Homo sapiens: one gene and its partner. The protein of the gene in region 2 purifies or fractionates together with the protein of the main gene of each other region. This does not show direct contact. Each region holds a gene or a part of one and is shown on either strand. Other genes may lie near its edges.

What was found. The genes of interacting proteins can lie anywhere in the genome.
Region 1: the proteins of TMED6 (region 2) and NETO2 purify together in Homo sapiens (affinity purification with mass spectrometry; 2 studies listed by BioGRID and IntAct, with this or other methods). This does not show direct contact.

Annotation. Positions count from the first base shown.
Region 1 is NC_000016.10:47,109,196-47,112,945, reverse strand, and holds part of NETO2 (neuropilin and tolloid-like protein 2 isoform 1 precursor), read left to right. Parts: intron 1-3,234; coding exon 3,235-3,463; intron 3,464-3,750. UniProt on the Homo sapiens protein: Accessory subunit of neuronal kainate-sensitive glutamate receptors, GRIK2 and GRIK3.
Region 2 is NC_000016.10:69,349,726-69,353,475, forward strand, and holds the start of TMED6 (transmembrane emp24 domain-containing protein 6 precursor), read right to left. Parts: upstream 2,062-3,750; 5' UTR 2,029-2,061; coding exon 1,816-2,028; intron 1-1,815.

The DNA of each region.
Region 1 (3,750 bases), about 22 Mb from region 2:
TATGGAACAATACAACATATTTTTATAGATATGTAAGTATGAAAATATTAAGTGTGCTTTAAGTGAAATTAAACAATATTTATTAGATCTCATTCTTCATTGAAATATTCCTTGAAAAGATAATTCCATATTCACAAATTTTTAGGAGCGTTACCTGGAATATTGACTATAGAAGAATGTTGTATTGCTTTTAATAAAAGTAAATCAGTTAAACTTAAAAAAATTATTACAGTTGACATGGGAATTGGATCAAATTTTAAAATTTGAATGTTTAAATGTGTAAATAGGCCAGGCGCAGTGGCTCACGCTTGTAAACCCAGCACTTTGGGAGTCTGAGGCAGGCGGATCACTTGAGGTCAAGAGTTCGAGACCAGCCTGGGCAACATAGTGAAACCCCATCTCTACTAAAAATACAAAAAATTAGCCAGGTGTGGTGGTGCACACCGGTAGTCCCAACTACTCAGGAGGCTGAGGCACAAGAATCTCTTGAATTGGGGGTGGAGGCTGCAGTGAGAGCCGCGATCACGCGACTGAACTCCAACCTAGGAGACAGAGTGAGATTCTGTCTAAAAAAAGAAAACAAACAAACAAAAAAGTGTAAATAGATGGTTTTATTTAAGAAATCTAAATTAAATGTTAAAAGTCACCATTACCCTTGAATACTAAATGTGAGAAACTAGTTCATGGGTGATGTTTAAGAAAAATATCCATTTATAAATATAAAAAGAAGCCAGTCACGGTGGCCCATGCCTGCAGTCCCAGCACTTTGGGAGGCTGAGGCGGAAGGATCACTTGAGCCTGGCAGTTCAAGACCAGCCTAGACAACATGGCAAGACCCTGTCTCTATTTTTAAAATTAAAAATATATTTTAAAAATAAATATACAAAAGAAGGCATCGATGTTTAAGAGTATACAAATAGTGTTTTAGTCCACTTTTATCAGTGGCCTTTTCATGATAGTAGCTTTCTGGGGATTTCATTTCTGTTGGGGTCTTCAGGGGCTCCAATAAATAGCATCCCTTTTCCCTGGTGGAGTGCTGAACCAATTGAGAAATAAAAGTGTCAGTGTGTAGGGAGTTGGAAAAGCCTCTTTACCACAGTGAAGGCTAGGATAGAGAGAGCAACGCAGAGAGATGATCTAATTAGTGTTGGCAACTCCTTGCCCACCAGTTCTACGTCTCACCTAAGTCTAGAACAGCCCATTCCACTCCAGGGAAAGTTCGCATCTGCAGAGCAGACCGGCCTACCCAGTCCCACTTCCTATGAGGGGAGGGAAAAAGAAACCAAACTCCCACCATCCAGGTAACTTGCCCTGCCTCCCTGGGTAGGATATAGGGATAGGGTAAGAGGTCACTTACTTGATGAAAGTTGTAAGTAAAAGATCCCTTCTCATGCAATCTGGAGTAAAAGAAAAGTAGTTTATGCCCTTCTCCCAACATTGCAATTTGTCAGATTCACGTTATGAATATTTCCCAAAAATTTGTTGAACTAAACAATTCAATATTTAGCTGTATTTACAGTAGAAAAGTGCTGTGATCTTGTTATTATTTATCTTTAACTCGATGTTTTTTTAAAAATATGTCTTTGAAGAGCATTTACTATAGCCTTATATAATACCATATTTATTTGGATTAAAAGAAAAGCAGAGAGTAAATATAAATACTTCAGACAGCTTGATTATTCTACTGATACTTCTACCAAGTCATAGTTTTACAAGCCTAGTCACTTTCTCATTGTCTGCCATGAGCAAGAATTATACTGGATGAAACTGAGCCAGTGACCTTCCATTGGAAGACATCACAGTCTAGTGGAAGAGGGAAGTCATTACAGCATTAGAGCTCGCTACCAGAGTGTGAGCGGAGGGTTTGGGTTATATAAGTGATGGAAAACTAATGAGAACTGTTGATATATTTAAGAAAACATATTGCTTCTTTGTTAAAATACACGCATGAAGACTTTGTAAAGTTTTGAACTGGAAATCCTATTTCATTACCAATTTTCCACCATTCTCACGGAAGTGGTGAACCAGTCATTTCAAATAAACCAAAATTATTTAGTCAAAATGTAATTCTTTAAGCTATATTTTGTAAGTTGTTCTCTCTTAGTTTTATGCCATCAAGGTATTTGGTGGGGTGGGGGGGGAATATATGACATGACATTTTTGTTTTATTAATCTCTTCGAATTAAAGGGTAGATGTGGCATACTGCTCCCTCAGAAATAATAGCTAGGAAGTGAATACTCATTAGATGTCTTGAATGGCAATTCAAAGGTAATCTTTATTCACTCACTCAAATTTTATTTTAATGATAGAGTCACATATGAGAAACTAGAGCCCAAACAGGGAACACTGTGTGAGTATGTAAAGCGCTTCATGGAATGAGAAGGACGCACATTTAGAGTCAGACCAACCTGGGTTTAATCCTTGCCACCGAATAACAGATTCATCTCTGCCCACAAAAAAACATGATACCTACTTCATTAGGCTCTTCTGGAGATTAATGCTTAAAATCTAAATTCACAATGTAAGAGAAATCGCCAAACAAGAATGGGTCAAGAGTGTTTAGGAAATAACTTAGAACCATTTAGCTATAAAATTTGAATGGGGGATGCTAATAGAGCTTCCTTTGATAGTACAGTTGACGTCTGCCTGTCTGAAAATGCAGGTATTGTTAAGAGGTGAAATAAAGCAACCATGTAGAACAGTAGGATATTGTGTAAATAAATAATAGGACATCCGGGAATAGGTATGGCTAAGAGTATAGATAAAAACATTTTTATATGTTACAGCTAAAGTAGGATGTGTATATCTTACAATTAAACACAGGTTTTTTTAATGTGCAGAAAGAGTGAAAAGAAACTCACCAATTAATCACATGCATTGTTGGAATAATAGAAATATGAGTGATTATTTTATTTTCTCCCCTGTCCAGTACCATGAGATTGCTTTTATAATGAGAAAAATGTGAGATAGTTATGCCTTGTGAGCAAAAAGTTTCTACTCTTTATAGACAAAACACAAAGTAAGTTCCTTAATGCTTGGTTCCATTATAAAGACAACCAAAGAAACAGATCATTAATCTTAGTTCCTCTCACTATTTAGGCATCAGCCATTTATCGATTATGGTTTTCTGTCAGCTGTCATTCGGTGTCCCATGTTGTCTGTGGAAAATAGAAATAGAAAAATTCAAATTAATATATCTTTTTAAAAGCAGTGTTTTTGTGTTAATATTACAGATTTATTTGAGGTTCCTAGATTATCAAATGGAGCACTCAAATGAATGCAAGAGAAACTTCGTTGCAGTCTATGATGGAAGCAGTTCTATTGAAAACCTGAAGGCCAAGTTTTGCAGCACTGTGGCCAATGATGTAATGCTTAAAACAGGAATTGGAGTGATTCGAATGTGGGCAGATGAAGGTAGTCGGCTTAGCAGGTTTCGAATGCTCTTTACTTCCTTTGTGGAGCGTAAGTAAATAATTCCTATAGTATTGAGATCTTTTACATATTTTTCACTCATTCACAGTACACTCAGCATTTACTTTTTTAAAATATTTATTTTAGGATGTTTTTTTTTGTTTTACTACAGCTCTTTTTAATGCAAGAATATTATTTAAATTTAAAATATTTTAAATTTTATTTAATTTTTAGAGGTGGGGTGTTGATTTGTTGCACAGGCTGGCCTTAAACTCCTGGGCTCAAGCGATCCTCTGCTTCAGCCTCCCAAGTAGCTGAGACTGCAGGCACACGGCACT
Region 2 (3,750 bases):
GTCCCACGGTCATCAGCACAGCGGTCTCTGTCTGGGGTGGGACTGCCCAACCCCCTGCTGGGGTTTGGAGTTGATTGGAGGATTCTGAGGTATCACAGTGATGGTGTTAAGGGGAGGCAGCACAGCATTGCTGAACGTCTGCAATGTAAGAAACAGTACAGCAGGACAAAGAACTGCCCAGAATGCCAACAGCACCCGTGTGAAGAAGACATGCCTTGCTCGGAACACACAGCTAGTGTGGATCCACTAAAATGTATGATTCTGGGCCGGGCGCGGTGGCTCACGCCTGTAATCCCAGCACTTTGGGAGGCCGAGGTGGGCAGATTACAAGGTCAGGAGTTCGAGACCAGCCTGGCTAACATGGTGAAACCCTGTCTCTACTTAAAAAATACAAAAATTAGCCTGGCATGGTGGCGTGCGCCTATAATCCCAGCTACTTTGGAGGCTGAGGCAGGAGAATTGCTTGAACCCGGGAGGCAGGGATTGCAGTGACTCGAGATCATGCCACTGCACTCCAGCCTGAGCGACAGAGCAACACTCTGTCAAAAAAAAAAAAAAAAAAGTACGATTCTGGCTGTAGAATTTTTTATTTTTTTTGAGACGGAGTCTTGCTCTGTCACCCAGGCTGGAGTGCAGTGATCTTGGCTCACTGCAACCTCCACCTCCCAGGTTCAAGCGATTCTCCTGCCTCAGCCACCCAAGTAGCTGGGATTACAGGCACATGCCACCAAGCCCGGCTAATTTTTGTATTTTTAGTAGAGATGCGTTTTCACCATATTGGCCAAGGTGGTCTCGAACTCCTGACCTCAGGTGATCCGCCTGCCTCAGCCTCCCAAAGTGCTGGGATGACAGATGTGAGCCACCGCACCCGGCCTGGCTGTAGAGTTCTTGAATGAACTTGCTTGGTGGTTGAGCTCCCCAATGATGTCCCAGATTTGGGCATTTGCTGCTTGGCAGTGCACACCTACAACAAGCACTCCATGGACACTTGCTCCCAAGCTAGATCTTGATTAGGCCAGGCCACAGTGAGCTTAGTAGTGGCTGCTGTTCTAATAGAAATTCAGAGGTAAGAAAAGTCTCTGATAAGTTTATTTAAAATAAATGTTGTTACAGTGGAGTAAGATCAACAAAGTCTATTACTATGTAAACAAAAATTAGAAAGTTAACCGATTTCTAAGATAAAGAACAAAGGAAATGAACAGCCTCTAACTTTCATACTGAGTTCACCATCCTTGGACAGCATGATATAAGACCATAGTATGGGTAAAAGTACTTGACCTTTGAATAAGTAACTTGAAAACACTTACCGTCCTAAAAAAAAAAAATAGGATTAACTGGCCGAATACAAAAAACTTGACCTAGTGAATCTCTGACTTGCCAGAATTGCTCCTAAAGGCAGCAGAACCTTTACTCCCCCACCCCATAAGCTGAAGCAGCCTTCTTTGAAATCTCTGGATCAGTCTCCAAAGCACCATTATCCAATTTTGTTTTAATATATTAAAAATGTATTCTCTCCCCTCTCATCCCCAAATCCGAGTACATGTAATGATTACCTCTTCAGGGAGAGGCACCCCGTCTGCCCCATGGCTTTGAGCATGGCCCCTGATGTAAGAAGCCAAACCATATGTTTTAGCTCCTGTTGGTGATTATTCACCCAGCTGGAGTTTCCCTCTAACTGCAGGTCCATTTCATTAACAGGTGGGGAATCACAGCATAATAAAGACAACCAGACCTTGTTTTGGCCTAAAACCTGACCCACTTTATGAGTAAAGGAGAAAAAAAAAAGCCCCCCAGTATGGCCAGTCACCCACATACCTCGTAACTGAAATAGAAGTATCCAGTCTGGTGGGCAAATTGCCAAAAGCATTCCGTGCCTCCTGGAGGTATCATGATGGCAAAGTCATATCGATCAGCTCCACGGAAGAGTGGCTGGTCCCCAGAGCCACTTAGAGGTTCTGTCTTCTGGCTCCTGGCAGACGTCACTAGATTCAGAACGACCAGCCCAGCCCCAAAGAGCAAAGGGGACATGCCGCTTTCTGGAGCCTCCTCTGCAGGTGAACTGCTCGCAGCCCAGGGAAATCAAGTCGTTCAGACAACCGCTGGGCTAATGATTAACTCCACAAGTCACATTACGGCCCATTTCAGGGCCACACATAGATATTCATCATAGAACTGCCATGATACTCCCATGTTTGGCTCGCAGGAGGAAATTTTGCTTTCACCTCAAAAACTCAGTGGCTTACCAAACCTACTTCATGGGTGCTACATAGAATCTACCACCTCAGAAGAGGTCTTTCCACCCTTCATTAGGGCTGTCATTTTTTAGTTCCTGCTTCTTGGGGATATAATAGTGGGTAAGTTTACAACTTCTGAATACACTGACAAAAAGTTGGCTGGGGGGATTGTTCTCTTACATCAAATTGCTCCTATAAACACATGGGGCAACACTTCTCTCTCCCCAATGCTGCAGCTCAGAGCAAATCACAGCATGTGTGTGCAAAGATGTAAATGGATGAATACAGTGCCAGAGGATGGTGCTTAGACCCCTCCACTGACAGTCCTCGTCCTGATGCCTTTCACCTAACGGTCACCTAAAGCTATCCAAACCCACTGAAAGACAATTATATTATCCAAAGCCTCAATCTTTTTTTTTTTTTTTTTTTTTTTTTCTGAGATGGAGCGTAGCTTTGTCACCCAGGCTGGAGTGCAGTGGCACGATCTCTGCTCGCTGCAACCTCCACCTCCCCGGTTCAAGCGATTCTCCTGCCTCAGCCTCCTGAGTAGCTGGAATTACAGGTGCCTGCCACCATGCCCGGCTAATTTTTGAATTTTTAGTAGAGACAGGGTTTTACTATGTTGGCCAGGCTGGTCTCGAACTCCTGACCTCAAGTAATCCACCCGCCTCGGCCTCCCAGAATGCTGGGATTACAGGCATGAGCCACCACGCCCAGCCTTGATCTTTCTTTTATTCAGGACTTCTTCAGCACCCATGGGGGAAAAAACTATCCAGAACCCACTTAAAGACAATTATATTATTCACATCCTTAATCTTTATTCTTTTATTCATGATTTCAACACCCACCTCCTTCATGGCAGGCACTGAGCTAAGATTTACCTGCATCTTATTTTATTCTCACAATAGCCCTGCAAGGGAGGTATTGTGAGCTCTGGCATTAGAGATGAGGACACAGACATTCAGAGATTCCAGTGGTGGCTCACGCTCCCACAAGCACACCTGGCAGAGCTGGGTCCCCGGTGGGGGCTCATGCTCTTAACCACCAGGCAGGACAGTGTTTCTCATTCTCAAGCTGTCAGTCTCTGAGTTCTGACACTGCCTAACCATTTTTCAGTCCTAATCTTTTTTTTTTTTTTTTTTTTTTGCTTCCTTGAGATGGTATCACTCTGTCTTCCAGGCTGGAGTGCAGTGGCACAAACATAGCTCACTGCAGCCTCACCCCCTTGGGCTCAAACGATCCTCCCACCTCAGCCTCCCAAGTAGCTGGACCCACAGGAGTGCACCACCACACCTGGCTGATTTTTGTATTGTTTGTAGAGATGAGGTTTTGCCATGTTGCCTAGGCTGGTCTCAAACTCCTGGGCTCAAGTGATCCCCATGCTTTGGCCTCCTGAAGTGCTAGGATTACAGGTGTGAGCCACCGTGCCTAGCCTTAGTCATAATCTTAAAAAACAAAAAACAAAACAGCATTAACACCTTCCAGCAATTATTTGCATTGACTCAAAGTGTCACAA